Linked DNA regions of Homo sapiens. The protein of the gene in region 4 interacts with the protein of the main gene of each other region in a pairwise test. Each region holds a gene or a part of one and is shown on either strand. Other genes may lie near its edges. The genes, in order: ADCY4, POMC, RINT1 and ESRRG.

Region 1 (8,440 bases), on a different chromosome or scaffold from region 4:
AAAGCTCTTTAACTTGGCTGAGTTTTTTTTTTTTCTTTTTTTTTGAGGCGGAGTCTCGCTCTGTTGCCCTGGCTGGAGTGCAGTGGTGTGATCTTGGCTCACTGCAAACTCCGCCTCCCGGGTTTGAGCGATTCTCCTGCCTCAGCCTCCCGAGTAGCTGGGATTACAGGCGCCTGCCATCTCACCCAGCAAATTTTTGTATTTTTAGTAGAGATGGGGTTTCACCATGTTGGCCAGGCTAGTCTTTCACTCCTGACCTCAGGTGATCCACCTGCCTCAGCCTCCCAGAGTGCTGGGATTACAGGCGTGAGCCATCACACCCGGCCACCTGGCTGAGTTAAGAACAAGTCCTCATCCCTCCTAGCAGTGGACTAGGAATGAGGGCCTACTTTCTAAGCTCATGCATTTGCTGCCAGATTTGGGTTTCTCAATGGAAACAAACTGGCCTTCATGGGGATGTTGTTAGAATCAAAAGAGATGCTCATGGGAAAATGCTAGGGCTGTGTAGAAAGTCCACAGGATCTACAAGGTTAAGATAAGGGCCGTGATTATCATTTTCCCCAGAACACATGTTTCCTCTGTGGGTAAGTGCCTGAAGCTAAGGGGAAGGGGTGAAGGAAGAAAGTGTGGCCCGGGGTCATGAGGGCAAGGTGATCCGCTTATGACAGCCAGGGCCTCCTTTGCCTGGGGCACTCTCACCTGTTTGTCACTAGCATCTGGATGATGAAGTTGGAGAGAAAAACCAGGAAGGTGCAGGCTTCATAGTATTTGAAGGCGGGGATTGCAGAGAGTCGGTACTGAAAGTGAGAGGGCCAGAGGTGGAGACAGGGTCCAGTGCTACCCATCACCTTGAAGGCATCACTCCCAGGCAAGGGGTGGGCTCCTCAGCCTCACCGCCCAGGCTCCAGTTCAGTTCCATGTAGACCCTACCAGTTCTCCAAGGAGTTACCCTCCTTCCTCCCCCTACCATCTAGTAGCTCAGTCTACAGAGTGACTTTCCTTTAGAGAGAGGCACAAGCTCCTCACCCCTAGGATCACAAACTGAGCAGACTTGGGGAGGAGACCCAAGGGCTGACCCCTCCCCAGCACCAAGGAACTAAAGTTGGGAAGTTGTTTGGTGCCACCCACACCACAGCCCACCTCTTTCTCCATCTCCTTCTCTCTGAAGTACAGTGTCAGTGGGTTGAAGTCCTTCGACTGCTTCCACTGTCTGGTGGGAGGTGGGAGGGTGGGTGAAAGCACCAGAGAACAGAGGGCACAGAAGGGCAGGAAGAGGGCAGAGTGAGGGCAAGAGGGGGTGGTCAGGCGAGTCTTCCCTCCAGCCCCTCAGGGAGCACCATCCCTTCTCCACCATATGACCTCAGGGCCTGCGGCCCCCCCAGCCCTCTTTGTTCTCCGTACTTCTGCGAGTTGAGCTGCTCAATGACCTGGAAGAACTTGGCATCCCCGGTGTCCAGTTCATCATCTAGTCCCCGGGGGGTACGGCTCCTGCACAGTGAGAGCCAAGTCCATCACCACAGAGACCCTCAGAGCGTCTGGGCAAAGCAGGAGCAGACCCCCAGGGAGGATGGAGGGGGTCATCCAGACAGCCCCACTGGCAAAGACTTTGAGGCCTCCTCACCGATCCAGGCTCCACTGGGTGCTGAAGGAAGCCAGGGTCTTCTCCTGTTGGGAGAGCACAGGGGGAGGTGGGCATGGTGGGTGTTTTCCCTGCAGTGAGGTAGACCATGAGCCACACTGCATGCTCTATACATGTCTTTGACCTTGGGCATTTCACTGGGCTCTTTCTTTTGCCTCTAATGACCTCTCTGTCTCCCAAATCCCACCTGCCCTTGAAGGGGAGGTTTGAATCTCCTTAAAGTTTCCCCCTGACTCTCTAGACTCCCAGGATCTTTGTGTGTGTGTGTGTGTGTGTGTGTGTGTGTGTGTGTGTGTGTGACTGAATCTTGCTCTGTCACCAGGCTGGAGTGCAATGGCATGATCTCGGCTCACCACAACTTCCACCTCCCAGGTTCAACCGATTTTCCTGCCTCAGCCTTCCAGGTGGCTGGGATTACAGGCATGTGCCACCACGCCCAGCTAATTTTTGCATTTTTAGTAGAGATGGGGTTTCACCATGTTGGTCAGGCTGGTCTCAAACTGCTGACCTTAGGTGATCCGCCTGCCTCGGCTTCTCAAAGTGCTGGGATTATAGGCATGAGCCACCGTACCTGGCTGGATTTTTTTTTTTTTTTTTGCAACGGAGTTTCGCTCTTGTTGCCCAGGCTGGAGTGCATTGGTGCAATCTCAGCTCACTGCAACCTCCGCCTTCCAGGTTCAAGCAATTCTCTTGCCTCAGCCTCCTGAGTAGCTGGGATTGCAGGCACGCACCACCACGCCTGGCTGATTTTTGTATTTTTAGTAGAGATGGGGTTTCGCCATGTTGGCCGGGCTGGTCTCAAACTACTGACCTCAAGCTATCCATCTGCCTCATCCTCCCAAAGTACTGGGATTACAGGTGTGAGCCACCGTGCCTGGCAAGATTTCTAATATTTGACTGAGCCCCTGGAACTTCAGGGGCTAAGTGGATTTCTGTGCTAGTGAAGGTCCTGCCTCAGGAGACACCCTTGAACAAAGGGTCCTGCTCTTCCACCCTAATACTCCCTAGCCTGCACACCAGTGGAAAGCGGCAGGAGGTCTAGCATGGGCCCCGGCAGGCATTCCTGCTATGTAATTGTACCTAACACCATCTCACAGTCCCTGGGCTTGTAGCAGTCCCCACACACCACTCCACCCATGCTGGAGGTCTCATCCTGCAACAGTCAGCTGAACCTCAGCTTCTTCCTTCCTCTTCCTCCTGCCAGCTTAACCCTCTGACCTCTCCCCTACCTCATGTTAACACTTGGAATTAAGTACTTCCTGCAACCACTGCTGCCAGTGTCCTTCCCCCACTCCCCAGTGTTGGGGGGTTGAAGAAGAGAGCATGCAGTTTCAGGAATTGAGTTAAACAGAGACATTTCCTGGTGCTATGGGTGCACAGCCCTAGAATCAGAGACAGGAGGAAGTGGGGGGTCCAACTGCCTTTGTGGTGTCAGGGGAAGGCACTCTCCTGAGTAGAGGCTGGGGAGTTATGGACATGGTGTGTGGGTGGCAAGCCACCCAGGCACCGAGGCAAGAGACAGAGGACACGAGCAGTTCCAGTATAATAAAATATAAAACAAGAATTGTTATACCAGATATAGATCTTAGATATGATTATATATGAGTATCATTAATCATTAGTGGGTAGCAATTACTTTTTATTCCAATATTATGATAATCCTCACTCAATAATCATAGCCTAGGAAAAACCAGGCCATACAGAGATAGGAGCTGAGGGGACATAGTGAGAAGTGACCAGAAGACAGGAGTGCGAGCCTTCTGTTATGCCTGGACAGGGCCACCAGAGGGCTCCTTGGTCTAGCGGTGACGCCAGCATCTGGGAAGACGCCCGTCACCAAGCGGATCATGGTCCAGCGGTAGCAAAAGGTGTCAAGAAACAACACCAGCTACTTAGCAGACCGGGAAAGCGGGGTGGGGGGGGGGGTCTCCCTTTCCCTGGGGGAGTTTAGAGAAGACTCTGCTCCTCCACCTCTTGTGGAGGCCCTGACATCAGTCAGGCTCACCCACAGTTATCCGGAGGCCTAACCGTCTCCCTGTGATGCTGTGCTTCAGTGGTCACGCTCCTAGTCCACCTTCATGTTCCATCCTGTACACCTGGCTCTGCCTTCCAGATAGCAGTAGTAAATTAGTGAAAATACTAATAGTCCCTGATATGCAGAAATAATGGTGTAAGCTGTCTTTCTCTTTGTCTCCTCTCCCTCTCTGCCTCGGCTGCCAGGCAGGGAAGGGCCCCCTGTCCAGTGGATATGTGACCCACATGACCTTACCTATCATTGGAGGTGACTCACATTCTTTACCTTGCCCCTTCTGCCTTGTATCCAATAAATAACAGCGCAGCCCGACATTCGGGGCCACTACCGGTCTCCGCGCATTGGTGGTAGTGGTCCCCCGGGCCCAGCTGCCTTTTCTCTTATCTCTTTGTCTTGTGTCTTTATTTCTACACTCTCTCGTCGTCGCACACAGGGAGAGACCCACCGACCCTGTGGGGCTGGTCCCTACAATGGTGTCTGTAGGGATCTTGTATCTTCTCTGAGGTGAGCTGGAGGGCTCTTTCTCTAGAAGGAGGGGCAAGGAAGGGCCTGAACCAGTGACTGGGGTGACAAGACAGTTCGGGACTTTGGGATGTCACAAATCATTAAGTGGCTCACTGGTGGTGGGGGCAGGGAAGGCTGCCAGTGGGGCCTGAGGATACTGGGGGTGGATTTAACTAAGCTCTGGGGCTCAGGATGAAGGTGCACATACCGGGAGAGGGGTGGAGGTGGACACAGGGCTGTCTCCGTGGCTCAGGTGGGCAAAAGGCTTGGCTGCGCCCCAGGACTCCAGGTAACGGGTCATCAGCAGTGATGGACGCATCTTGAGGCCCTCAAGCGAGGACAGCAAGCCTCCTGCAGTGCCCTTCTCATCCTCCTCCTCTGCCTGGGGCACATAAGGGCTGACAGTAAAGACCACAGACACTTCCTCCTTCTCCCTCCACCCCCCACTAGGACCCAGGAACTCAATCTCTGGCACAGAAGAGATCAGGCCTGTTGGCTGTGGGGTGGTTTGTGTAGGCCAGCCCATGGGGTCTGGGCTGGGCTTTTACCCGTGGATCGATGACCAGATAGGTAGGCTCCCCTAGCTCCCGAAGGTAGGGGTCCCGATGCTCCATGCCTGCGTCCTCCACAGCATAAGCCCCTGCCAGCAGGGCCAGGGTAGCCCCTGTGATGTGCACTCGCCTGGAAGGAGGGAGGCAGTAGGGGTCAGCAGGGAGGGCCTTCAAATCTCCTATTTCCTGCCCCATCACCCCCATGGCTCCTAGAACTGACAAACATCTCATGTCTTTTAAAGATCGTTCCTGGATGTCTGACTTCAAGAAAGAGCCTGTGTTACAGGAGGTGCCTCCCAGCTCCCCTCCCTGCACCCTAGGATCTCCCAAGCCCCATATGGGACTTATCTTAAGGTACTCATCTTGTGCTTATCTTAAGGAACTAATGAAAGGATGGCAGCCTGTGGTAGGCCTGGTTGGCCTTCTGCTGTAGCTGCCTAGGGCCCTAGGTCTCACCCTGGTACACCGCCTGCCTCCATGTGGTTAGCCAGTGTGACATCATGTGACCAAACGTCGTACTGCCACTTCTGCAGCCCGATGACTCCACACAGTACGCTGCCTGAGTGCACGCCCACACGCATGTTGATGTCCACGCCAGTGGCTGCCCGCAGTTTCCTGAGCAGTGTGTGTGTGGGACAATCTGAGTCCTACCCTCAGCCCTGCCTGTGAGACACCCCAGATTCTCACAAAGAGGACTTCTGTCAGCTGCCTGCTGCCCCCCACATCCACCCTCAGCATTCCTCTTGACCACCGCCTGAGCTGACCTGATGGCCCGGCACATGTCCAGGCCCATGCGCACGCAGTTGATGGCATGGTCTGGCAGTGAGAGTGGCAGCCCAGAGACACAGTAGTAACAGTCCCCCAGGATCTTGATCCGCATGCATTCATGCTCCTGGGAGTGTGTATGTGGGTGTGCAGAGGAACCTGGTTAGAGGTCAGAAGGGTAGGAGGGAGTTGGGAAAAGTGGGCAGCGAGCGGGGTATTCCTGAAGAACTTCCAAGGTGGGGTAGTGTCTAGATCAGATCTAGGGACTCCTTTCACTTGATATGGGGCTAACTGTCTTTCATACAGATCTCTTTCTCAGAAGAGTTTCCCCAAGGGCTGGATGGCTGTGGCTCTTTCCACTTTTGGCATGTTGAAGGGGGTACCCAGAGTTGAGTACGTGGTAGTGGTCTCAGGATTGAGAGGTTGGGGGGAATCCAAGAATTGGTTGCTTGGAGGCATCCCTGGAGTCTAAGCAGGTTGCTGGGCTGAGGTTGCATAGGGCAGAAATTTCTCTTGGAAGGGCCTCCTAAGGTTAGAATATCAGAACGTCTCTATAGATTTGGTTGTAGTGTCCAGAGACACATATGTGGGGGCTCTGAGCATGTTTGGGGCATTGTACTTGGGACATCTGTGGCGATATTGAGGGATCTCTGTAGGTTTGAGGTGTGTGGTGAGCAGCTTCATGACTGGGAATGTTTGAGAGGGTTTCCTCCTTCCACTGGAATATCTGGGGGCCTGCATGCACTGAAGTGGGCCTGGGATCTTATAAGGTGGGAGTTTCCCTTGGAAGGGGCTACCCAGGATGGGATGTTTGAGGGTCCCTGGGTGGGGAGGGAAGTCTTCTCTGACCTTGGCAATCTGGTCGAACTTGCCAAAGAGCTCATTGAGCATGAGCACCAGCTCCTTAGGGGAACACTCGCTGGCCAGCCGCGTGAAGCCCACGATGTCAGCATACAGCACGCTGCATAGGGCAGACTGTGTCAGCAGGGCCAGGGTCTTAGCCCACAGGCCCCTCCCCTCCAGCCATTCTTCCTCATACCTGACTCCCTGGTGCCTCTTGACATAGAGGCTGTGGAAATTGTTAGTGCTCTCTGGCCGTGACCCCTGTCCTGCCTGCAGCCGTGCCATGATCTCTGCCTTCATCTCTCGGGCCAGGTAGGCAGGAAGGATGGACAAGAGAAGGTGTTCCTGGAAGAGGTCACCATGAACACCAACTCTTCTGCACCCTAAAGCCAGGAGGCCCTGTCCCCCAAATCACTCAGGAGCCCACACTGCCCATCCTAGGTGCTCCCCAGGGTGCTCCCCCAGGTCCTCCCGCTGCACACAGCAGGGCCCCAGCACTCCATCCTACACTGATCACCTTTAGTGACTAAACTCCCAGTATCAACACCTGAATGGGAGTTCACTTAATATCATAATGCTCTAAAGTGCTTTTTATAAGCTTTGGTTTGTTTGAGCCTCACAACCTTCTAAGATGGGCAATACCCACATTTTATACAAAAGAGGAAACAGGTCAAGAAACCTGCCCAGAGTCACTCAACTTGTGGAGGAGCCCCGTTATGTAATCTAAGCAACTCCTCCCTCGGAGCGCTGCTCTGACCTTCCTAGGCCCGGCTGACCTGGTGCTTCTTCTCGGTGTCCAGCCGCCGGCGTGAGTGCAGGGAGCTGAGTGCCTCCCGGAACGTGGCCCGCAGGGCGCGCTCCATCAGCGCCTTGTGGTACACTCCTGCCACGTTCCCGCACAGGAACAGCACTGCGTTTGCTGCCAACTGTGGGTGAAGGCCAGCCTCAGAGGGCGCGGGACCCGGGTGCTTGTCGTGTGTAGTTGGAGTTGGTCTCAAAGACTGGCTGGGGAAGACTGGGCTTTACAGTGAGGGACCTAACTATTGTGGGACAAGTGGTGCCACACTGTGGCATCCCTAGGGACGTTTCCCTTCCCAGATGCTCCCTCCTCCAGACTCTCGGCTGCTTCACCAACACGACCTCTTAGGTCTGGAAACGTTTGCAGGTAGGTTTCTTGTGCTTGGAATACCACTCCACTGTCGCTACCCACTCCCATCGCACAAAACTTTTTTTTTTTTTTTTTCATTCTCTGTCAAGGTTTCATTAACCACATCTGTTGTCCCCGGGGTAAACCACGACACGACTCCCTTCCGTGTGGCCTGGATCCCTCTTCTGGTAACAGCAGGCATTGCATCACACTGTTGTACCAGCTCTGCGAAAGCACGGTTGGGTATCCTGCGCCCAGCGTTGCACCTTGACTTGGAGTCACAGCTCAACAACCCCCTAAAAGGAGCCTACTAGCACGTGGCAGAGCCGTCCTGAGCGCAGCCTGTGCTACTTGCGTGCTCACCTGCGGCAGCAGTGCAGGCCGTGAGTCCGGCTGTGGCCCAAGATACAGCCCGAGGACCAGCAGATGCGAGAGTGAGGAGGCGAGGCCCGCGACGGCGGCGTCCCGCATGCCCAAGGGCAGCATGGCATACGCCGTGAAGATGACGAAGAGAAAATAGGACACCTGGGGGCGGGGCGCGGGAAGCCGAAGGCCCAAGTGGGGCTATTCAAGGCCTGGTGAGGGATCGAAGCCCGGGCCGTCCCCGCTGCCCCGCCTGCCGCCCCTCTCACCTGGTCCCAGGCGCTCACCACGCCCCCGGTGAACAGGAAGGCGTGGCCTAGCGCTAGCAGCGCGACCCATACCAAGCCGGACAGGGGACGCGTCCAGCGCTGCAGTCGCTGCTCCCGGGAAGCGAGGCCCAGCAGCAGCGAGAAGCCGCCCAGCGCGCACAGCACAGTGGTCAGGAAGCTCGGGTCTGAGGTCAGCTCCTGTGGGCAGGGGTGTGTGAGGCAAGATTGTGACAGGGAGAAGGAACGAACCTGATAAAGGAAAAGCCAGCAGCCCAGCCCCTCAGCCCAGTTCTGAAAGGTGTCTCAAGCCTAAGTACGAAAAGGAGG
Region 2 (6,661 bases), on a different chromosome or scaffold from region 4:
GCTTCTAGCAAATGGAAATCACTCCAGAGTAGTTATCTTTGACAAGAATTGAAATATAATTGAGGGAACTATCAGACCTGTAAGATTTTGTTTTTTCCTTTACTAATATGTTACTTTACATTTGCATTTGGTGACATACGTAACTACCATTTTTCTGTGACTGTAACATCTGGGCATTTTTCAGAGCTAAATGTGCTATGGTCAACTTGGAGCTTTAATCTAATTGCCTGGTCCACCAAGTTCTGGCTGTGTACTTGAATAGATCACTGGCAGGGTACAATGGGAACAGCCTGTCCCTTGGAGCCAGGAGAGGACACCAAGGTTGACCAAAGCTCGTTCAGTTGCCCCTTTAGCCGAAGCGCACCTGGGCCAGTCACTGGCTGCCAGTGCCATCTAATGGCTGCTCTGAAAATGCTCAGCCTTGCCCGGCAACCCTTCAGAAGCTAGCACCGTGCAGGCCCAGCGCCTGGGGAATAGGGCGAGGGTGGGGTAGAGAGAAGGAAGTGGCCTCCTGAAGTAGAAATCAGCGCTTCAGAGGACTTTCACTTCCAAAGCCTCCCCTATATAAAAAAGATTTGGCCCACGCCTCCCCAAATGAGAGATTTATTTTAGGCAAACTTATTTTAAAATGCCAGCGTTCATTAGGAGTGACAAGACACTTAGTCATCCACGCTTTAATGTGAATTACTTTTCTCATCTAATTACATTTCTTTCTAGCAGCTGGCTGAGAAGATCTTCTGAAATCCAAAATGATTGTAGGGTTGGCGGTGAGCTGATCTCCGGCCTCGAGGTGGCTTCAGGGGGCCCACCTGGTTAAGGGAAATTTGGCAGTGCGAGGGTAGTGCTGGAGAGAGGGGTGGGTACAGGGGGCTAGGGGCACCATGGATGCCCCCTCCTTACTGTCCCCTGGTGTCTTGACCTCAGCTTCTGCCCACAGGCACTTGCTGGATTCTCCAAAAGTATCTGCAGTGGCTGTTCCACCAGGAGGTAATTCCCTTCTGGTCTCTTTCCCCTCCACATCTGCATCCTCTTCAAATCCTGCCATTTCAGACCACATTTGAGAGCTCTAGAGAACAAGACATCTGACACGTGACGTGTCCAGAAGATGAGCCAGATTTCAAAGAACTGAGATCTGCTTTAAAAACGAAGCTCTCCAAAGTTACTGGAGTCTGGGTAATAGTGATCACCAGAGTAATTTGTGTGCAGGACATCAAATCAGGCTGCTCGAAATGCTGCCTAAATTGGCCAGTGGTTTTATTTGCTTTTCTGTCAACCTAATATTCATAGGAAATAGAGTTTCAGAGGAATGATAGGATCCTGGTGGAATAAAAAGGGAAAAGACCATCTTGAGCAGGAGTTTCAGGGTCCTCCGTTTTTCCCAAGTTACTTTCACTCCTGAGATCTTGCATGTTAGAACTACAGCTTAATGTAGTGAAATAGGAAAGTTCTCTGTTAGGAGCTTAGCCTTACCTTGTCATGGACATTAAAGTAATTGTCTCTCTTTGGGCTTCAATTTTCCCATCTCTCATGGGAAGGGCTGAACCAAGCAATCCCCAAAATAGCTTCCAGCCTTAACCTTTTTAGGGGTCTCGTTTAAATAGAAGATAACAGGGAAATGGTCACAGTTTACCCACCATTCCCTCCTCCTTATCACAACTTATACCACCGCTGTACTGCACACCTCCTTTCTCAGCATTGCTGCTGTCCTTAAAATGCCTTTAACTCCACAAGAGAGTGTGTTGTTAATGTTGGCTCAAGGTCCTTCCTGGTGAGTGGCCAACATTGTTTTGCTCCTTGCAGGGGTCCCACCAATCTTGTTTGCTTCTGCAGAGCCTCAGCCTGCCTGGAAGATGCCGAGATCGTGCTGCAGCCGCTCGGGGGCCCTGTTGCTGGCCTTGCTGCTTCAGGCCTCCATGGAAGTGCGTGGCTGGTGCCTGGAGAGCAGCCAGTGTCAGGACCTCACCACGGAAAGCAACCTGCTGGTACGTGGGCCATGACTGCCATCTTGGCTTAGACATTAGATGGGACTGGAGCTGGGAAAGCTCAAAAGAAAAGGGTGTGGGGAAAGGGAAATTCATTCCCAGTGATAGGCGTGATTCAATCCAGGGCAGGAGCAAAACTTTGCAGTGAAGTAAGAAATGGGAGAAGAAATCAGGGAAGGAAGCAGCTTCAGGGAGAGGGGTTGAGTCCACAATTTCTGCTTGGTTATCCTTACTTCTTGCCCCATCTTTTATGGAGACCTTGAACCCTTTAAGCTAGAGATGGTGCTATAAGAGCAATAATGGACCCCTCAATCTATTCTGTACTTTAAATCTTTAGCTTCCCAAACTATTCCTTTTTAAGAAGCTCATATCACTTGCCATTTTCATTCCATATTTCTTACCCTTTTATCTACTACCGGTTGCAAAACCAGCCAGGTAGTTCTTCAAATCATCTCTGGAAGAAGGAAAAACCAGGGGCCCTTTTTTTTTTTTCTTTAATTGGTGCCAAATGTCTCATGTTTATTCTGGAGGACTGGCCTTCTGCTGTGTTCCTCTACAGTCTTTCCAGAGCATGTGAAGGCCCTTTGCATCAGGCAGGAGCTCCCTCCAGGTCACCACAGGGTGTATGTATCTGCCTGTGGGGGGTGTGTGTGTGTGTGTGTTGGGGGGCATAAATGAGTAATGATGCCAAATCCAGAGATTAAAAGGCACACTGAGACCAGGCGAGATGGCTCATGGCTGTAATCCCAGCACTTTTAGATGCTAAGGTGGGAGGATTGCTTGAGCCCAGGGATTCAAGACAAGCCTGGGCAACATAGTGAGACCTCCACTTCTACAAAAAATAAAAAAGTTAGCCAGATGTGGTGGCATGTGCCTGTAGTCCTAGCTACTTGGGAGGTTCACTTGAGGCCAGGAGTCTGACGACACAGTAAGCTATGATCACACCATTGCACTCCAGTCTGGGTAACAGAATGAGACCTTGTCTCAAAACAAAACAAAATGAAACAAACAAACAAACAAACCCCCATACTGTTAGTGTCAGTGACCGGAATTTTAATCTTGTTGCCATCACCTGGCAGGTGCTGAGGGTGGAATGTACATAACTACATTCTGTGTATTTTGTCAATGCAGAAGCTGAGTTAAGGTGAAGATAGAATGAGGTCCTCAAAGACACAGACCAGTTTTCATGTGTAATATAAAATAGAAACAAAGAGCCCAGGGGATTCTGTGAGTTCCAGTTTGGAAAGACCCAAGAGTCTCTTGACTTGAGACACCCACAGCACAGCTCACCAGGGAGGGTGCACTGGACACAGTCAGGACCCATGGGTTCTAGACCCAGTTTTGAGGTGTGGGACCTTGACCAGGTCCTATCACCTCTCTGAGTCTCCTGTTTCACTATCTGTCCACGGGAGGGGAGTGTAAATTAGTTTTTTCCATTGTTAACGTTCCACAGAGTTGTAATTCTGAACACCTGGAGTAGGCAATGTCCAGCTCAACAGAGTGGGTAGGATCCTTTTATTTTCTCCTTTGCTATTCCCAAGAAAGAGAGCAGCCAGTGAGCTTTTCATCTTTTTATCACTGAAAACTCAAGGCTGCAGCCTATGCAGCCATTTTCCTAAGCTAATATGTACCACAATAGAGTCCTCTAGGGACAAGGAGCAGAGACACAGGTTCCACAGACGGTGCAATGGAAATAACGCTAGCTTTCCACCCCTCCCTCCAGTCAGAATGAGATTACAGGGAAATAAGCTTGCCCCAGAGCTCACTGGGGGATCTCTCAGAAATCAGCTCAGAAGTCGTGAAAGAACCAAGGTGCAGTTTTGGAGGCTTAGTGCAGAGATGGAGCTGGGGTAGGGCATAAAGTAGGTTTTTCATCACTGAGGTAAGGTTGAGGCATTATTTTTTATTTTTTGTTTATTTATTTATTTTTTTGAGACGGAGTCTCGCTCTATCACCCAGGCTGGAGTGCAGTGGCGCGATCTCCCCTCACTGCAAGCTCCACCTCCCAGGTTCACACAGGTTGAGGCATTATTAAAAATATGTTTAAAAATATGGGCCCTAGTAGCCAGACTTCTATCACCTGGAGAGATTATCCCCCAAATTTCAGCCCCACTCCCCTCCTGGACTTGAATTAAACCATATGTATTTATTCAATATTCTTTTTATTTATTTATTTATTTTTTTGAGACGGAGTCTTGCTCTGTTGCCCTGGCTGGAGTGTGGAGTGCAGTGGTGTGATCTTGGCTCACTGCAACCTCTACCTCCCAGGTTCAAGCGGTTCTCCTGCCTCAGGCTCCAGAGTAGCTGGGATTACAGGCGCCCGCCACCACACCCAGCTTATTTATTTATTTATACTAGAGATGGTATTTCACCATAGTTGGCCAGGCTGGTCTTGAACTCCTGACCTCATGTGATCTGCCTGCCTTGGCCTCCCAAAGTGCTGGGATTATAGGTGTGAGCCACCGTGCCCGGCCCTCAATATTCATTAAGTGCCAACAACTACCACCCGTCTGCCTTTCTTGGAGCCACTCCTTTATGTCAGGCATATAACAGTAAGACTTTGGTCCTGTTCACAAAAGCTAGGGGTGGCTAGATGGCTAGACAAACCATGGAATGGGATGGGAAGTGTGTTGCAGTTGCCAGGCAGAAGCATGAAGGGGATGGGACAAAAGAGGCAGTGGCAAGATCTTAGATGCCCACGAGTGCCAAGAAAGCAGGTGGGCAGACCTGCTCTGTAGGGAGGCCTCGACGCTTGACACGCCCGACACTGTGCCCTGTGTCCTCGGCACGTGGCGAGGGCGGCCAGGGCCTAGGCGCAGTGACGGGCGCGGCAGCCGGGCCGGGGTGCGGGGCACGGGCTGCCCTCATGCCCTCGCGTCTTCCCCCAGGAGTGCATCCGGGCCTGCAAGCCCGACCTCTCGGCCGAGACTCCCATGTTCCCGGGAAATGGCGACGAGCAGCCTCTGACCGAGAACCCCCGGAAGTACGTCATGGGCCACTTCCGCTGGGACCGATTCGGCCGCCGCAACAGCAGCAGCAGCGGCAGCAGCGGCGCAGGGCAGAAGCGCGAGGACGTCTCAGCGGGCGAAGACTGCGGCCCGCTGCCTGAGGGCGGCCCCGAGCCCCGCAGCGATGGTGCCAAGCCGGGCCCGCGCGAGGGCAAGCGCTCCTACTCCATGGAGCACTTCCGCTGGGGCAAGCCGGTGGGCAAGAAGCGGCGCCCAGTGAAGGTGTACCCTAACGGCGCCGAGGACGAGTCGGCCGAGGCCTTCCCCCTGGAGTTCAAGAGGGAGCTGACTGGCCAGCGACTCCGGGAGGGAGATGGCCCCGACGGCCCTGCCGATGACGGCGCAGGGGCCCAGGCCGACCTGGAGCACAGCCTGCTGGTGGCGGCCGAGAAGAAGGACGAGGGCCCCTACAGGATGGAGCACTTCCGCTGGGGCAGCCCGCCCAAGGACAAGCGCTACGGCGGTTTCATGACCTCCGAGAAGAGCCAGACGCCCCTGGTGACGCTGTTCAAAAACGCCATCATCAAGAACGCCTACAAGAAGGGCGAGTGAGGGCACAGCGGGGCCCCAGGGCTACCCTCCCCCAGGAGGTCGACCCCAAAGCCCCTTGCTCTCCCCTGCCCTGCTGCCGCCTCCCAGCCTGGGGGGTCGTGGCAGATAATCAGCCTCTTAAAGCTGCCTGTAGTTAGGAAATAAAACCTTTCAAATTTCACATCCACCTCTGACTTTGAATGTAAACTGTGTGAATAAAGTAAAAATACGTAGCCGTCAAATAACAGCAGCATGGATCGGAGGAGCACAGTGGTTTCCATGCGGTAGGATATTTCACAGGACTTAGTGAGCGTGAAAGGAAAATGTGCTTCCTGCCCCCACCCCCAAATGGATCTTCGAGGGATCAGATAGTTTGGGTGAAGGCACAGGGTGGCTCCAGCACCTCTAGGATGGCCGTATTTTCCACACACTCCACTGAGTGGGAGACTGCTCAGCTAGCACACGTGTAAAGGCAGGATTCCTGCAAGAGTGACCCCGGGCGCTCAGGGGCTCCCCGGCTCCGGTCCACCTCCAAAAGCCAGTTGGACAGGTTGAGGCCTACCCACGCCTGGGAGTGCTCTGGACTGTCAGGTGAGAAGTCTTGGTAATGTCTCCGGGGAACTGCTCGTAGCAATCCATGGGACCTTAGGCAAGTCTCTGAACTTCTCCAAAATTTAGTTCTTTCATCTACCCCTCCCTTCCCAGTATGAGGGTTATTGTGAAGATTAAAGGAGAAAATGGACATAATCTTCTTTTTATCATAGAAGCTAAGTGTGAGAGCTGAGGGTTAGTATCAGTTCCAATTTCACTCCCAGGCTACTCACAGATACGCTCAGACATACGGTCTCTCTCACACACACACACTCATGGAGACACACATCTGTTTAATACAACATACTCTACGCAGTTGCTTCTTCCAGCCCCTAGGGCTTAAGCCCTGACTCAGGCCCTCTGACCCCTCCTGCCGTGCCCAGGCTCCTCCCTCCCCGCGTGTTTCAGCTCCAGCCCTTCTCATCCTTAGTACTTCCCCCAGGCCTCTCTGATAACAGCTTCCCAACCAACTGGTCTCCTAGTTTCCAGCTGCTCTCCCCAGCCCATCATATACGAATTCTTCACGTTAGTTTACACAAAATCTTGCTT
Region 3 (8,440 bases), on a different chromosome or scaffold from region 4:
AGGCAGACCTCTAGATGCTTACTGGAGCCAGTGAGTTAAGTCCCTTTCTCTACATGTATGTGTATATGTATGTATGCATATATTTTTTATTTTATTTTTATTTTTTTGTTTCACTTATTGTTTTCAACACAAAGGCATACTTCTTCCTGCTATTTGTGTGTATATAAAACAGCATGTTATGTTTGGATTGATTAGTACAGGATGAAGAAATCAAACCTTTTTTTGAAGGTTTTGATGGATGATTTTCAGTTCTGTTACAAAAAATGTGTATTTTGAAGGGAACGAACTAATAAAAAAGGTTACATACAGCCTGGGCAACATAGTGAGACCTTATTTCTATTTAAAGAAAAAAAAAAAAGAAAAGCCAGGTGTAGTGGTGCATATGTGTAGTCCCAACTACTGGGGAGGTTGAGGTGGGAGGATTGGTTGAGCCCAGGAAGTCCAGGCTGCAGTGAGCTATGATGGTACCACTGCACTCCAGCCTGGGCAACAGCGTGAGATCCCCTCTCAAAAAAAAAATTATGAAAATTTTATCTGATTGCTGCTGTTCTTTCTTTCTTTCTTTTTTAAAATTATGGTCAGGTACTTACAATTTCATCAGAAATTCCTAAAAGAATTCGAAGTGCCTTAAAAAATGCAGAAGAATCAAAGCAATTTCTTAATCAGTTTCTGGAGCAGGAAACTCATCTCTTCAGCGCCATTAACAGCCATTTGCTGACTGCGCAACCTTGGATGGACGATCTTGGAACCATGATTAGCCAGATTGAAGAGATCGAACGTCATCTTGCTTACCTTAAATGGATTTCACAAATTGAAGAACTAAGGTAAAATGGGCCTCTTTGTTCTCACAATTACTATTTTCCTTTGAGGCTTCTGTCTTAGAGAGTACATGTGTGCCATTAAATAATTGAGTTAATTAAAGATTATAATAATATAATTTTACCAGTTGTTGTGAAAATAGCATTATGATAATGATTCTTTTCCTTTATTGTGAGTGAACATAAGCTTTTCAGGGAGCTTAATTAGCATTTGAAAGAAGGTAATGTAAGTACGTTAAACTTTTAAGTTTTTTTTTTTTGAGATGGAGTCTCGCTCTGTCGCCCAGCTGGAGTGCAGTGGTGCCATCTCGGCTCACTGCAAGCTACACCTCCCGGGTTCATGCCATTCTCCTGCCTCAGCCTCCCGAGTAGCTGGGACTACAGGCGCCCGCCACCATGCCTGGCTAATTTTTTTTTTTGGTATTTTTAGTAGAGACGGGGTTTCACCATGTTAGCCAGGATGGTCTCGATCTCTTGACCTCACTGTCCGCCAGCCTCGGCCGCTGGAAGTGCTGGGATTACAGGCATGAGCTACCGCGTCCGGCCAAACTTTTAAGTCTTACAGTTGGATTATGAACACATGATAAAAACTATTCTTTGTAATGCCAAATTAATAAAACACAAAGTTTGGTAATAGTTATTCTTATTTAATTTTTAGAACTGGTCAGTTAATGAAATGGATTGCTTTTGTATAATTTGAATATTTTTCAGTGGGAATCATAAGAGCTACACAGTATTCTTGGATGAATAACAAGAGTTCTGCTACCTCTGGGTAGGAAAAACAAAAAAGGAAGTAAGGCTTGACCTTAGTTCTTTTTGAGTTGAATACCTATCACTGGTAGTTAATTGTATCTAGCTTTGCCTTTCAGACAACCCAAAGTAACATTTCCACCTAGATTAGTAGATGATAAGGTCCCCACTATCCTTGCATTGTTTTAACTAGTACTTGCTGCAGAGCTGTCAGCAACCATTAATTTTGCCTGGAAAACCTGAGGGAGAAAAGTCTTCTGGGAGTCTTAATGTCCTGTTTCAAATGTATCATAGTTAATAAACCTGATATTACTTTTGTTATGGATATGTTTTATGTATTTCTTTTTCTTGCATATATTTCCCAAAATTTTAAAGAATTTTACATATCAATATAATATAGAAATCTTTGTTTTTAGGCCAGGTGCAGTGGCTCACACCTGTAATCCCAGCACTTTGGGAGGCCGAGGCGGGCAGATCACGAGGTCAGGAGTTTGAGACCAGCCTGACCAACATGGTGAAACCCCGTCTCTACTAAAAATACAAAAAAAAAAAAGAAATTAGCCAGGCATGGTGGCGCGTGCCTGTAATCCCAGCTACTTGGGAGGCTGAGGCAGGGGAATTGCTTGGACTCGGGAGGCAGAGGTTGCAGTGAGCTGAGGTTGTGCCATTGCACTGCAGCCTAGGCAGCAAGAGCGAAACTCCGTCTCAAAAAAAAAACAAAAAAAACAAAAAAACTTTGTTTTGCATGTATGAGGAGTTTTACATATAAAGTGGTTTAGAACATCTCATTCTTGTTTAGATAAATTATTTGCAGTGAAGGAATTTTAAACCTTGCTTTATTTTACTGCATTTCTCCTTGTCCCTCAGAAAGGAAATATCAGTAAGGGGCAATGTTAATAACTTTATTAAGTAAAATACGTTATTTGAAAACCTCACTCTTGTAGTAGCCAAAGTAATAGATTAACTAAATTAGGTCCATGGTTATTGATAAACTTTTCTTTTTTCTTCTTTTTTTTAACATTTATTTTATTTATTTTAATTTTCTTTTTATTTTTTTTTGAGTTGGAATCTTCCTCTGTTGCCCAGGCTGGAGTGCAGTGGCACAATCTCAGCTCACTGCAACCTCCACCTCCCGGGTTCAAGCGATTCTCCTGCCTTGGCCTCCCGAGTAGCTAGGACTACAGGTGTATGCCACCACGCCCAGCTAATTTTTGTATTTTTAGTAGAGATAGGGTTTCACTATGTTGGCTAGGCTGGTCTTGAACTCCTGACCTCAAGTCATCTGCCTGCCTTGGCCTCCCAAAGTGCTGGGATTACAGGTGTGAGCCACTGCACCTGGCCTTGATAAACTCTTCAGATATCTGAATTGTTTATAAGGGAAATATGCCGAGGGATTTATATTAGAAATAGGGATCAAATTCATAAGCAGGTAGAGCACAGTTATTTTTCTGTCTTTAATAATGTGTTATTTCCCTGAGGTCTTTTATGATAATCTCTCCATTTCCAGCTTTCCTTTAGAGCTTCTGGGATTTTCTTCATCTCTAAATTTTTTTATAATGGCCTATTTTTATTCTGATGTACATTGTCTTTTTTTCAAGTAGTTTCTTCTTGCTAGAATTAGCATCCTTACATTAGCTCTGTTTCTTGGATACTATAGTATAGCACTATCACTCTGAGTGAACCTTGTTTCTCTAGCTTTTCCTATGTTGTAAATGTCATTCATACTTTAGTGTTGTGAGGAAATCTATTTCATTCCTTCCTTAAAAGCAGTACTCCTGCCGGGCATGGTGGCTCATGCCGTAGTCCTAGCACTTTGAGAGGCTGAGGTGGGCAGATCGCTTGAGCTCTGAATTCTGTGACCAGTCTGGGCAACATGGCAAAACCCCATCTCTGTTTAAAAAAAAAAAAATCAGCCAGGCTTGGTGGTGAGCACCCATAGTCCCAGCTACTCGGGAGGCTGAGGTAGGAGGATCGCTTGAGCCCCGAGAGGTTAAGATTGCAATGAGCCGTGATTGTACCACTGCACTGCAGCCTAGGTGACAGAGTGAGACTCTTTTAAAAAAAAAAAAAAGGCAGTACTCATATTCTGTTTGTACATTTGAAATTCTTCTGTAATATTTGTATATATATATATATATTTTTTTTTTTTTGAGATGGAGTCTTACTCTGTTGCTGAGGCTGGAGTGCAGCGGCACCCTGTCAGCTCACTGCAACCTCTGTCTTCTGGGTTCAAGCAATTCTCCTGCCTCAGCCTCCTGAGTAGCTGGGATTACAGGTGCCCATGACCACGCCTGGCTAGTTTTTATATTTTTAGTAGAGACGGGAAGGGTTTCACCAAGTTGGCCAGGCTGGTCTCGAACTCCTGACCTCCGGTGATCCACCCATGTTGGCCTCCCAAAGAGGCCACCACGCCTGGCCTCTTTTTCTTTGAGACGGAGTCTCACTCTGTTGCCAGGCTAGAGTGCAGTGGCATGATCTTGGCTCACTGCAACCTCCGCCTCCCGGGTTCAAGCAGTTCTCCTGCCTCAGCCTCCCGAGTAGCTGGGATTACAGGTGCCCACCACCATGCCTGGCTAGTTTTTATATTTTTAGTAGAGATGGGGGATGGGGAAGGGGGGGCGGGGGGCGTTTCACCAAGTTGGCCAGGCTGGTCTCAAACTCCTGACCTCCGGAGATCCACCCATGTTGGCCTCCCAAAGTGCTGGGATTACAGGGTTGAGCCACCAAGCCCCGCCTGGAATTATATTTCTTTGAAGTGGGAAATCAAGTTCAGCTGGGCAAAGTATGTAACAATTGAAGACCATCATACTTGACTTTACCAGATACTACCACATTATTCCCTTGGATTAAGATACTGAAGACTTTGTAAAAGGCAGATTTATCAGAAATGAGTGGTGCCCAAAGGAATATGACACAAAACAGGTCTGTCAGGAGGAGTAGGAAGGGAAAGGTCCCGGGAGAGGTCTTGAACATAGGCTGCAGGCTGCTGCTCTTAGAAGAATGCAGAAGTAGAGGACTCTAGGCTCCCAGAGAGGCCTTGGTAAAAGGCCTCAGGGTGGTGCTTTGTTAAAAAACAAAGGCTACCTCAGGGTGGTGCTTCATTCTTCCTTGGATGTAACTTTATATAAAACATGAAGAAGAAGCACTTTTTCCGAATTTGAAATTATTCTGAGCAATCCGTTCTTTAAATTTGCTTTCGGCTGGGCACGGTGACTCACGCCTCTAATCCCAGCACTTTGGGAGGCCGAGGCGGTCGGATCACTTGAGGTCAGGAGTTCAAGACCAGCTTGGCCAACATGGTGAAACCCTGTCTCTACTAAAAATACAAAAAATTTAGCCAGGCATGGGGGCGCATGCCTGTAATCCCAGCTACTGTGGAGGCTGAGGCGGGAGAATCACTTGAACCTGGGACACAGAATTTGCATTGAGCCAAATCATGCCACTGCACTCCAACCTGGGCAACAGAGTGAGACTCTGTCTCAAAAGAAAAAAAAATTTGCTTTACTTTGTTTACAGTGATAACATTCAGCAATATCTGATGACCAATAATGTACCGGAGGCAGCCTCCACTCTAGTGTCTATGGCAGAACTTGACATTAAACTTCAGGAATCATCTTGTACTCATCTTCTTGGTTTCATGAGAGCCACAGTTAAATTCTGGCATAAAATTCTCAAGGACAAGCTTACAAGGTAGGGAATTTACCCATATTTTGTGGTAATTGCTTTCCGATGGGTATTTGGTGATCATTTGGTGATGTACTGAAATGTATGTGTTACTTTTCCATTGCAGTGATTTTGAGGAAATTTTAGCACAGCTTCATTGGCCATTCATCGCACCCCCTCAATCACAAACTGTTGGCTTAAGTCGACCTGCCAGTGCCCCGGAGATATACAGTTACCTGGAGACACTGTTTTGTCAGCTTTTGAAACTACAAACCTCGTATCTTTGTTGCAGCTGAAAACTTACTAAAATTTCTTTTTTCTAGAATGGGTTTGTGGCTAGAGAGTAAAACTTTTTCAAAGTGGCCAAGAAAGCCAAATAAGAATCCTGTGTTTGGACTTGGTCTGTAAATGTCCACTGAGTGGTGGACTGTACTCTTGCAAAGTGAATTGCTTGTAGGTGTGAGGGCTGTAAGGAAGAGTTCCGGGATACATGACTGATCCAAGTTCATAGCACAAAAAGGTCTCTTGGGGCAACAGAACAAATGGGCAATTGGGAGGAAACCTTTAGTGTCATAGCGTGAATTTAATCAAATGATACTTGAATTTTTTTTGTTACTATTTTAGGAAAGATTTATAGATTAATTCTAATACCATTTTTGTGCTTTTTTTTTTTTTTTTTTGAGATGGAGTTTCGCTCTTGTTGCCCAGGCTGGAATGAAGTGGCGTGATCTCATGATCTCGGCTCACCACAGCCTCCACCTCCCGGGTTCAAGCGATTCTCCTGCCTCAGCCTCCCGAGTAGCTGGGATTACAGGCGTGCACCACTATGCCCAGCTAATTTTGTATTTTTAGTAGAGACGGGGTTTTTCCATGTTGGTCAGGCTGGCCTCGAACTCCTGACCTCAGGTGATCCACCCGCCTCAGCTTCCCAAAGTGCTGGGATTACAGGTGAGAGCCACTGCACCTGGCTCATTTTTGTGCTTTTTTTAAAGACATGGTCTCACTTTGTCACCCAGGCTGAAGTGCAGTGGTGCAGTCATGGCTCACTGCAGCCTTGACCACCCAGGCTCAGTTGATTCTCCCACCTCTTCTTCCTGTGTAGCTGGGACTACAGGCACGTGCCACCATGCCCCGCTAATTTTTGTTGTTTTTTGTAGAGATAGGGTTTTGCCGTATTGCCTAGGCACGTCTCAAATTCCTGTGAAGTGGCCCAAGTGATTAGCCTGCTTCAGCCTCCCAAAGTGCTGGGATTACAGGCATGATTCACTATCATCATGCCTGGCTTTTTGTGCATTTTAACTGAATGTATATTCAATATAAAGAATTAACTGTATGTTTATTCAATATAAAATTAGGTTACATATTATTTGCATCATAATTAACTCTACTGAGTATCTGATACATTTGTTGGAAAAATTTATTGTGTGTGTATACATACATATGTGTGTGTATATTAGGTATGCTTTTGATTCTTTTTCCTTGACTTGATTATGTCAGAGATGAATTACTTACTGAGCCAAAGCAACTCCCAGAAAAATACTCTCTTCCTGCCTCCCCTTCTGTCATCCTGCCCATCCAGGTTATGCTGACTCCTCTTCAGAAGAGGTTCAGGTATCACTTCAGAGGGAACCGGCAGACTAATGTGTTAAGCAAGGTGTGTTTTGCCAGCTCTTGTCCTTGGTTTTTATTGGTAACAAATGTTAGAGTTTCTATACCTTTGCTGGTTTAAGTTAAAATCTGACTCTCTTCACATTTCTGTTTTTTTTCTAAAGGGCTACATTCCTGTTTTGTTACTGCTGTTCATACATATAATTGAGGACTTGTGTTCATATACTGTAGGAAAAATGGTATTTCCGCTCTTGGGCATCAGATATTGCTGAGTTATCATTGCAAAACAAAGCAAAGCAAATAGTAAGCACTTGGTATTTCTTTTCTTTTTTTTTTTTTGTGAGTTGGAGTCTCGCTCTGTCACCCAGGCTGGAGTGCAGTGGCACAATCTCTGCTCACTGCAACCTCCACCTCCCAGGTTCAAGCGATTCTCCTGCCTCAGCCTCCCAAGTAGCTGGGACTACAGGCACATGTCACCACACTGGACTAATTTTTGTAATTTTAGTAGAGATGGGTTTCACCATATTGGTCAGGCTGGTCTGGAACTCCTGACCTCAGGTGATCCACCTGACTTAGCCTCCCAAAGTGCTGGGATTACAGGAGTGAGCCACTGCGCCTGGCATGTACTTGGTATTTCTGCTCTTAAACCTGTATAAGACATGCGTAGTTTTTGTAATGCAGACTAGCAATTTTTTTTTTTTGGAACGAAGTTTCACTCTTGTTGCCCAGGCTGGAGCGCAATGGTGTGATCTCGGCTCACTGCAACCTCTGCCTCCCGCGTTCAAGCGATTCTCCTGCCTCAGCCTCTTGAGTAGCTGGGATTACAGGTGCCCACCACCACGCCCAGCTAATTTTTGTATATTTAGGTGAGACGGGGTTTCACCATGTTGACCAGTCTGGTCTTGAACTTCTGACCTCAGCTGATCCACCCACCTCGGCCTCCCAAAGTGCTGGGATTACAGGCATGAGCTGCCACGCCTGGCCAGCAATTTTTTTCTTGATTTACTTTTTGAAAATAAAAACCATAAGAAAATAATATTAAAATTATTTTCAAATGCTATTTCAAAAAATATAGGCCATCAGTTCTTTGTAATACTCATCATTTTACATATTATTGAAGTGCTAGGTTTTAAATATATATGGCATTGTAAATTTATGAGTTTATTGACTTAAGTCATATTATTGAAATTTGTTGGGAGTACATTAGCAAACATTTGATTATTAAGCCTTGCAGGAGTTTAAAATTTGGAGTAGAAATTGTGCTCTTACATACAGGAATTTTCAACTAATTTTTATAAGTGTTGTGCATATACAATTAAATAGAACCATGTAATTGTAACTTTCTAATTGGAATGACTTAAGAATTCAAACTATTTTCCTCCTTCCTTAGCCAGAATGGTACTTGGCTCAAGTACTTATGTGGATTGGAAACCATACTGAATTTCTGGATGAGAAGATTCAGCCAATATTAGACAAAGTAGGCTCTTTGGTAAACGCAAGGGTAAGAGACTCAGTCATAAGTGTTTCTGTTTTAGAACTGTATGTGTGCATGGATAACTTTTTATTTACATACCTCATGTTTGTGTATTTTTTTAGCTTGA
Region 4 (8,440 bases):
TGGCATATATATGGCATATGGAAATTTAAAGATACAAAGTATCTTTTAGAAAATAGACCTTTTTCCACTTCTCTATTCTTTCCATGACATTCTGTTTCATTCATTCAATGATTGGAGAGAGTCCCATTCACCCTTTCCTTACTACCCATCTTTATGTAGGCAGTTCACAAACATCAAAGAAAATCAAGTCCTGCGTTTCACAGAAAAGTTTACACTGACTGTTGGTTTATGTTATATACTAGGCTCGACTCTGAATATACTGTGCCTGTATCTAATATTCAATTCCATACTCAAAATGAGATTTGGCACTCTTGAGAAAGTATTGCCAAGAATGGTCTAAAAGTCCAGAAGAAAGTTCCCAAGCAGGACTTAGGTATTTTGGAGTAGCTATGTCTGTGCACACAATGATTAATGTTTTCTTCTTTTTTTTTTGAGACGGAGTCTGGCTCTGTCGCCCAGGCTGGAGTGCAGTGGCGCGATCTCAGCTCACTGCCATCTCCGCCTCCCGGGTTCATGCCTCAGCCTCCCGAGTAGCTGGGACTGCAGGCGCCCACCACTACGCCCGGCTAATTTTTTGTATTTTTAGTAGAGACGGGGTTTCACGGTGTTAGCCAGGATGGTCTCGATCTCCTGACCTCGTGATCTGCCTGCCTCGGCCTCCCAAAGTGCTTGGATTACAGGCGTGAGCCACCGCACCTGGCCCACAATGATTAATATTTTCTAACATAGAGAAGGGCAGTATTTTATTCAAGGGAAGATATAAAAATAAAATCTTCTTTTTCAGTGGCTCTGTCTTATTCAATTTGCAGCTGCAAGGATGATGATATTTAGCTATCTTCCCAAAGTAAATGATCTGAACTAGACACATTTTTTTAGGATCTCTTTCACAGAGTAAAATATTGGAAGTTTTGATAAAGTTCTATTTTATTATTAGGTGTTAGACTTAATATGTGGGCAATAATATGTGTTTCATATACACTCTGGTTATCTTTTGAAATATTTATTCTTTTAGAATAGTATTTGCTTGTCTTATTGTCTAATTCAGTAGTAGTTCTTAATCCTGGCTTGGCAGTAGAACTACCTAGATTTTCAGCAATGCTGATGTCCTAGTTCTGGTCTCTTACTTCATAGATCTAGACTTGGGCCCAGTATCCAAGATTTTTAAGAGCTCGCCCATTGTTTTTAATATGTAGCCTAGTCCTGTCTAGTTAGTTCATAAACTTATGATATCCATTAAGTTTAGCTGGTTCCTATTAGCACAAATACTAGGAATATTTCCTTTAAAGCATAGTTAAAAAGAAACCAGCATGAACAATGAAAACAAAATAAATTACATACATTAATGCCAGTTCTATTGAGCCTGGTGTCAACGTGTAAATTTAACCAAAAGAACAAAACAGAGATTAAAACCACAGATCCAGAACTTGAACTAGGATCCCTAATGGAGATTAATATTTTCTTCAGCAGTCTGCCAGCTGAATCATTGTCTAATTAAATAGTTCAAATTTAGTGAGTTTGCATTTAAAGTATTAGCAGATCCGAGAATGGGTAAAGCTAAAATGAGTTAGAATCTTTTCTATAAATGGGAAGTTAAATTATCATAGTAATTTGATTAAATCATTTTTAAATCTCTCATGCTAAATCACAGCCTTGAAAGAATAGTTTGAAATCTTAATTGCTGTTTGTGAGCATATCTCTCTGCTATTTGTTCTTGTCTCATTTCCCATGACATCCTATAATATATCTCCTGCTGGGCAAGAGTAGTGGGAAAGGCAAGACTATGGGTAGGGCCGAGGTAACTGTGCAGCTGACTTCAAGCACTTAAAGATATGCCATGTAGAAAAAGGAAATTTATCCTGTATTGTTCTAGTAATTAGAAACAGGACCAAATGATAGAATTTGGAGACAGATTTAGGAAAATTTAAAGAGGAAATTCATAATAATTAGTTTTGCCTCTTATCAAGGAGAATACTCTACATACTTTTCATACAACTGGCAATGTCTTCATTAAGAATGTTGTAAAGAAGACAGCTGATGAAGATAGGAGTTTGAATAGGATGTGTTTAGAGGACAATTCATCCCAATTTTTAAGGGAATGCAAATTTAGTGTTCTACATTCTAGCAGCATTATTGATTTGAAGAATCCTGAATTTAAACCTGTGTCTGACACATATTACCAGTGCCACGTGTCTTCTAGGGCTTGGGGAGGTAAAATGAGGCCATGTTCACCTGAAATAGGTGCTTAATAAATGGTAAATGTATTATTTTTATTCTGGTGTGTTTTTGGTCTAGTTGGAAAATAGTTATTTCGTTTGTTTTGTCACTGCAGAGTGTAATTCCCATTTTCTCCTTCCATCTATTACTCTGTTTTCATGTAGAGAGCTAATTATTAGACCCAGGATAAGTTGGGAAAATCCAACTCATCTCTGTTCCCTTATGCACAAGGTCCATATTGCAGTCTTTTGTGTATCTAGAGACTCACCATAGTGTTTCCCCATACCTCCCATTTTTCCTTCAGGTAGCATTTAAGTGCAAAAATAGAGAGAAAGAATATCAGATCATGTTGCCATCATCTCTATGAATGTTTTTCTGTCCCTAAGATTACCAACCCCTAGACAACTTTAGAAATTATGTGTGTTTGTTTCTAAGAGACAGCACCATAGGAGGTGGATGAGATTGCCATGCTGAGAGGAACCAGACTGGAGAGAAGCTGGGTAGAAACAATCCACAGGGAAAGGCCAGGCGTATGTTGGGGAGTGACTTGAGTCCCGCTCCAGGGAACCACTATCAATGCTATTTCCCACTTGGAAAAATTCCTTCTTTTTGCTCTGCCAGGCAGAAATTGAGTCTTGAGCAGTAAATACTTATAAGCAACTTTATTCCAGATTATTCAAAAATTTTTTAAAGAGGTGTCATTAAACTACCTAATGTAAATAGTGGTCAGTTCACCAGTGATATGGTGGAATGATTCAAAATGACAATGTAAGTGAAAAAAACACTAAACAAAATACAAATAAATTTTTAAGACATGCTACTGGTTATCTTTTAATTAGTTTGCCATATTTCATTTTTATTATATATTTAGCCACTTGATTTTAAATTACATTCCCTCTCTTTTTGTTCATGTGATCTATGTTTGAATTGTATGAAAGATTAGGCTAACTACATATATCTTAGAGCTCAGCATTCTCAGAGAACTAGAATTATTAAACATGAAGAATCCCCCAAAGACTCCATTATGTGTAATTAACAGATAAACTGTCATCAGAATCAATAAAACGTGCTAAATGATTCAAACTTGTATATAATTAAGTGTCTGCTTTAGAGCTGGAGCTGTAACTTTTATTTTTTCCCCACATCTCACATTTCTCACAAGAATAATTTGGCAACCTTGTTAACCCTTTCTTTGCTTGATTGAATTAGATTTTCAAATTATTCATTTAAGGGCAAAGTTCACCTTTACAAATGCGAAAAATATTTCAGAACTCAGTGATCTGAAGACACCATTTGTTTTTCATCAGGGAAGTAGACTCTGTAAGGATGCTTTAATCAACTGATACTAGAACATTAAACATCCTGAAAGGATAAATAATTTATTGTGATTTCTGTATAGTGCTAGATTCAATGTAGTCACATGGAGTTCTTAGAATCTTAGTCAACAATTTTTTCCCCTGTTTGGGAAATATTGGCTTTTCCAGGCAAGATCAGAATTTTAAACAACCTTCCCCCACACAGCACTAAGATAATACTTTCAATAGATGGCCTTCCGTGGTTGTTTATTGAGTGAATGAATATATACCTGGATGAGACAATGAATAAAATAGTCAAGACTGTAATCTGTTAAAAGAAAGCCTTCTCTTGCTCAGCCTGAGAAAGAAAAATACACATTTTAAATCATAGATCTTTTCTAATAATTCCCATTTTCTAAGCTAGTATTAGAAATTATGTAGGGAAATTTGGAAAGAAATAGAGATTGTAGAAATGCAAGACTCTGAACAAATCATAGGTTCAAGCTCAGAGAAGTTCAAAAATAATTAAATTAATAACTAATTTTATAACTCTAGTCTACATAGGTTTGCTATTATTATTATAATTACTCATATCTTTTGCTTCATTGCACAGACTCCATGCACATAGAAGATGTTGAAGCCGTTCAGAAGCTTCAGGATGTCTTACATGAAGCGCTGCAGGATTATGAAGCTGGCCAGCACATGGAAGACCCTCGTCGAGCTGGCAAGATGCTGATGACACTGCCACTCCTGAGGCAGACCTCTACCAAGGCCGTGCAGCATTTCTACAACATCAAACTAGAAGGCAAAGTCCCAATGCACAAACTTTTTTTGGAAATGTTGGAGGCCAAGGTCTGACTAAAAGCTCCCTGGGCCTTCCCATCCTTCATGTTGAAAAAGGGAAAATAAACCCAAGAGTGATGTCGAAGAAACTTAGAGTTTAGTTAACAACATCAAAAATCAACAGACTGCACTGATAATTTAGCAGCAAGACTATGAAGCAGCTTTCAGATTCCTCCATAGGTTCCTGATGAGTTTCTTTCTACTTTCTCCATCATCTTCTTTCCTCTTTCTTCCCACATTTCTCTTTCTCTTTATTTTTTCTCCTTTTCTTCTTTCACCTCCCTTATTTCTTTGCTTCTTTCATTCCTAGTTCCCATTCTCCTTTATTTTCTTCCCGTCTGCCTGCCTTCTTTCTTTTCTTTACCTACTCTCATTCCTCTCTTTTCTCATCCTTCCCCTTTTTTCTAAATTTGAAATAGCTTTAGTTTAAAAAAAAATCCTCCCTTCCCCCTTTCCTTTCCCTTTCTTTCCTTTTTCCCTTTCCTTTTCCCTTTCCTTTCCTTTCCTCTTGACCTTCTTTCCATCTTTCTTTTTCTTCCTTCTGCTGCTGAACTTTTAAAAGAGGTCTCTAACTGAAGAGAGATGGAAGCCAGCCCTGCCAAAGGATGGAGATCCATAATATGGATGCCAGTGAACTTATTGTGAACCATACTGTCCCCAATGACTAAGGAATCAAAGAGAGAGAACCAACGTTCCTAAAAGTACAGTGCAACATATACAAATTGACTGAGTGCAGTATTAGATTTCATGGGAGCAGCCTCTAATTAGACAACTTAAGCAACGTTGCATCGGCTGCTTCTTATCATTGCTTTTCCATCTAGATCAGTTACAGCCATTTGATTCCTTAATTGTTTTTTCAAGTCTTCCAGGTATTTGTTAGTTTAGCTACTATGTAACTTTTTCAGGGAATAGTTTAAGCTTTATTCATTCATGCAATACTAAAGAGAAATAAGAATACTGCAATTTTGTGCTGGCTTTGAACAATTACGAACAATAATGAAGGACAAATGAATCCTGAAGGAAGATTTTTAAAAATGTTTTGTTTCTTCTTACAAATGGAGATTTTTTTGTACCAGCTTTACCACTTTTCAGCCATTTATTAATATGGGAATTTAACTTACTCAAGCAATAGTTGAAGGGAAGGTGCATATTATCACGGATGCAATTTATGTTGTGTGCCAGTCTGGTCCCAAACATCAATTTCTTAACATGAGCTCCAGTTTACCTAAATGTTCACTGACACAAAGGATGAGATTACACCTACAGTGACTCTGAGTAGTCACATATATAAGCACTGCACATGAGATATAGATCCGTAGAATTGTCAGGAGTGCACCTCTCTACTTGGGAGGTACAATTGCCATATGATTTCTAGCTGCCATGGTGGTTAGGAATGTGATACTGCCTGTTTGCAAAGTCACAGACCTTGCCTCAGAAGGAGCTGTGAGCCAGTATTCATTTAAGAGGCAATAAGGCAAATGCCAGAATTAAAAAAAAAAATCATCAAAGACAGAAAATGCCTGACCAAATTCTAAAACCTAATCCATATAAGTTTATTCATTTAGGAATGTTCGTTTAAATTAATCTGCAGTTTTTACCAAGAGCTAAGCCAATATATGTGCTTTTCAACCAGTATTGTCACAGCATGAAAGTCAAGTCAGGTTCCAGACTGTTAAGAGGTGTAATCTAATGAAGAAATCAATTAGATGCCCCGAAATCTACAGTCGCTGAATAACCAATAAACAGTAACCTCCATCAAATGCTATACCAATGGACCAGTGTTAGTAGCTGCTCCCTGTATTATGTGAACAGTCTTATTCTATGTACACAGATGTAATTAAAATTGTAATCCTAACAAACAAAAGAAATGTAGTTCAGCTTTTCAATGTTTCATGTTTGCTGTGCTTTTCTGAATTTTATGTTGCATTCAAAGACTGTTGTCTTGTTCTTGTGGTGTTTGGATTCTTGTGGTGTGTGCTTTTAGACACAGGGTAGAATTAGAGACAATATTGGATGTACAATTCCTCAGGAGACTACAGTAGTATATTCTATTCCTTACCAGTAATAAGGTTCTTCCTAATAATAATTAAGAGATTGAAACTCCAAACAAGTATTCATTATGAACAGATACACATCAAAATCATAATAATATTTTCAAAACAAGGAATAATTTCTCTAATGGTTTATTATAGAATACCAATGTATAGCTTAGAAATAAAACTTTGAATATTTCAAGAATATAGATAAGTCTAATTTTTAAATGCTGTATATATGGCTTTCACTCAATCATCTCTCAGATGTTGTTATTAACTCGCTCTGTGTTGTTGCAAAACTTTTTGGTGCAGATTCGTTTCCAAAACTATTGCTACTTTGTGTGCTTTAAACAAAATACCTTGGGTTGATGAAACATCAACCCAGTGCTAGGAATACTGTGTATCTATCATTAGCTATATGGGACTATATTGTAGATTGTGGTTTCTCAGTAGAGAAGTGACTGTAGTGTGATTCTAGATAAATCATCATTAGCAATTCATTCAGATGGTCAATAACTTGAAATTTATAGCTGTGATAGGAGTTCAGAAATTGGCACATCCCTTTAAAAATAACAACAGAAAATACAACTCCTGGGAAAAAAGGTGCTGATTCTATAAGATTATTTATATATGTAAGTGTTTAAAAAGATTATTTTCCAGAAAGTTTGTGCAGGGTTTAAGTTGCTACTATTCAACTACACTATATATAAATAAAATATATACAATATATACATTGTTTTCACTGTATCACATTAAAGTACTTGGGCTTCAGAAGTAAGAGCCAACCAACTGAAAACCTGAGATGGAGATATGTTCAAAGAATGAGATACAATTTTTTAGTTTTCAGTTTAAGTAACTCTCAGCATTACAAAAGAGTAAGTATCTCACAAATAGGAAATAAAACTAAAACGTGGATTTAAAAAGAACTGCACGGGCTTTAGGGTAAATGCTCATCTTAAACCTCACTAGAGGGAAGTCTTCTCAAGTTTCAAGCAAGACCATTTACTTAATGTGAAGTTTTGGAAAGTTATAAAGGTGTATGTTTTAGCCATATGATTTTAATTTTAATTTTGCTTCTTTTAGGTTCGTTCTTATTTAAAGCAATATGATTGTGTGACTCCTTGTAGTTACACTTGTGTTTCAATCAGATCAGATTGTTGTATTTATTCCACTATTTTGCATTTAAATGATAACATAAAAGATATAAAAAATTTAAAACTGCTATTTTTCTTATAGAAGAGAAAATGGGTGTTGGTGATTGTATTTTAATTATTTAAGCGTCTCTGTTTACCTGCCTAGGAAAACATTTTATGGCAGTCTTATGTGCAAAGATCGTAAAAGGACAAAAAATTTAAACTGCTTATAATAATCCAGGAGTTGCATTATAGCCAGTAGTAAAAATAATAATAATAATAATAAAACCATGTCTATAGCTGTAGATGGGCTTCACATCTGTAAAGCAATCAATTGTATATTTTTGTGATGTGTACCATACTGTGTGCTCCAGCAAATGTCCATTTGTGTAAATGTATTTATTTTATATTGTATATATTGTTAAATGCAAAAAGGAGATATGATTCTGTAACTCCAATCAGTTCAGATGTGTAACTCAAATTATTATGCCTTTCAGGATGATGGTAGAGCAATATTAAACAAGCTTCCACTTTTGACTGCTCTTTTGTATTGTGTTTCTTTTTTTCCCCCCGCTAAAGAACCAAATTGATAAACACTGCCCTTTGTTGCTTCCATTCAAAGAGTATCTCTGAGTACCTGTTCCCTAAAAATAAAGTCGGAGTTTAAATAAGTGCTATATAAAGGCTTGTCAGAATGAATTCTAGGGTGCCAAGAGACATTTTGCATATTTAAGAGTATGCAAAGTGTCTCATGGCACATTAGAATTCATTCTGACAAGCCTTTATATAGCTCTTATTTAATCTTAAAGCATCTCCACATCATCCTGCATTACTCAAAATCATCGCCTCTATGTCAATGTCATAACAGAAAACTCTCCCCCTATTTTAAGATCATATTAAAGCCTGCTAGAGATACCCATTA

Evidence for each region.
Region 1: the proteins of ESRRG (region 4) and ADCY4 interact in binary tests that used the Homo sapiens proteins (3 or more experiments, as listed by UniProt).
Region 2: the proteins of ESRRG (region 4) and POMC interact in binary tests that used the Homo sapiens proteins (3 or more experiments, as listed by UniProt).
Region 3: the proteins of ESRRG (region 4) and RINT1 interact in binary tests that used the Homo sapiens proteins (3 or more experiments, as listed by UniProt).

The regions. Positions count from the first base shown.
Region 1 is NC_000014.9:24,324,678-24,333,117, forward strand, and holds part of ADCY4 (adenylate cyclase type 4), read right to left. Parts: intron 8,312-8,440; coding exon 8,114-8,311; intron 8,007-8,113; coding exon 7,845-8,006; intron 7,261-7,844; coding exon 7,111-7,260; intron 6,680-7,110; coding exon 6,531-6,679; intron 6,453-6,530; coding exon 6,341-6,452; intron 5,619-6,340; coding exon 5,491-5,618; intron 5,342-5,490; coding exon 5,183-5,341; intron 4,857-5,182; coding exon 4,724-4,856; intron 4,558-4,723; coding exon 4,384-4,557; intron 1,666-4,383; coding exon 1,622-1,665; intron 1,489-1,621; coding exon 1,402-1,488; intron 1,211-1,401; coding exon 1,141-1,210; intron 798-1,140; coding exon 700-797; intron 1-699. UniProt on the Homo sapiens protein: Catalyzes the formation of the signaling molecule cAMP in response to G-protein signaling.
Region 2 is NC_000002.12:25,159,962-25,166,622, reverse strand, and holds the end of POMC (pro-opiomelanocortin preproprotein), read left to right. Parts: intron 1-937; exon of another isoform or gene 938-987; intron 988-1,800; exon of another isoform or gene 1,801-1,830; 5' UTR 1,831-1,850; coding exon 1,851-1,982; intron 1,983-4,870; coding exon 4,871-5,542; 3' UTR 5,543-5,763; downstream 5,764-6,661.
Region 3 is NC_000007.14:105,541,826-105,550,265, forward strand, and holds part of RINT1 (RAD50-interacting protein 1), read left to right. Parts: exon of another isoform or gene 1-30; intron 31-582; coding exon 583-824; intron 825-5,084; coding exon 5,085-5,258; intron 5,259-5,358; coding exon 5,359-5,508; intron 5,509-6,723; exon of another isoform or gene 6,724-6,728; coding exon 6,729-6,885; intron 6,886-7,003; exon of another isoform or gene 7,004-7,142; intron 7,143-8,229; coding exon 8,230-8,340; intron 8,341-8,435; coding exon 8,436-8,440. UniProt on the Homo sapiens protein: Involved in regulation of membrane traffic between the Golgi and the endoplasmic reticulum (ER); the function is proposed to depend on its association in the NRZ complex which is believed to play a role in SNARE assembly at the ER.
Region 4 is NC_000001.11:216,502,866-216,511,305, reverse strand, and holds the end of ESRRG (estrogen-related receptor gamma), read left to right. Parts: intron 1-4,122; coding exon 4,123-4,367; 3' UTR 4,368-8,055; downstream 8,056-8,440. UniProt on the Homo sapiens protein: Orphan receptor that acts as a transcription activator in the absence of bound ligand. Binds specifically to an estrogen response element and activates reporter genes controlled by estrogen response elements.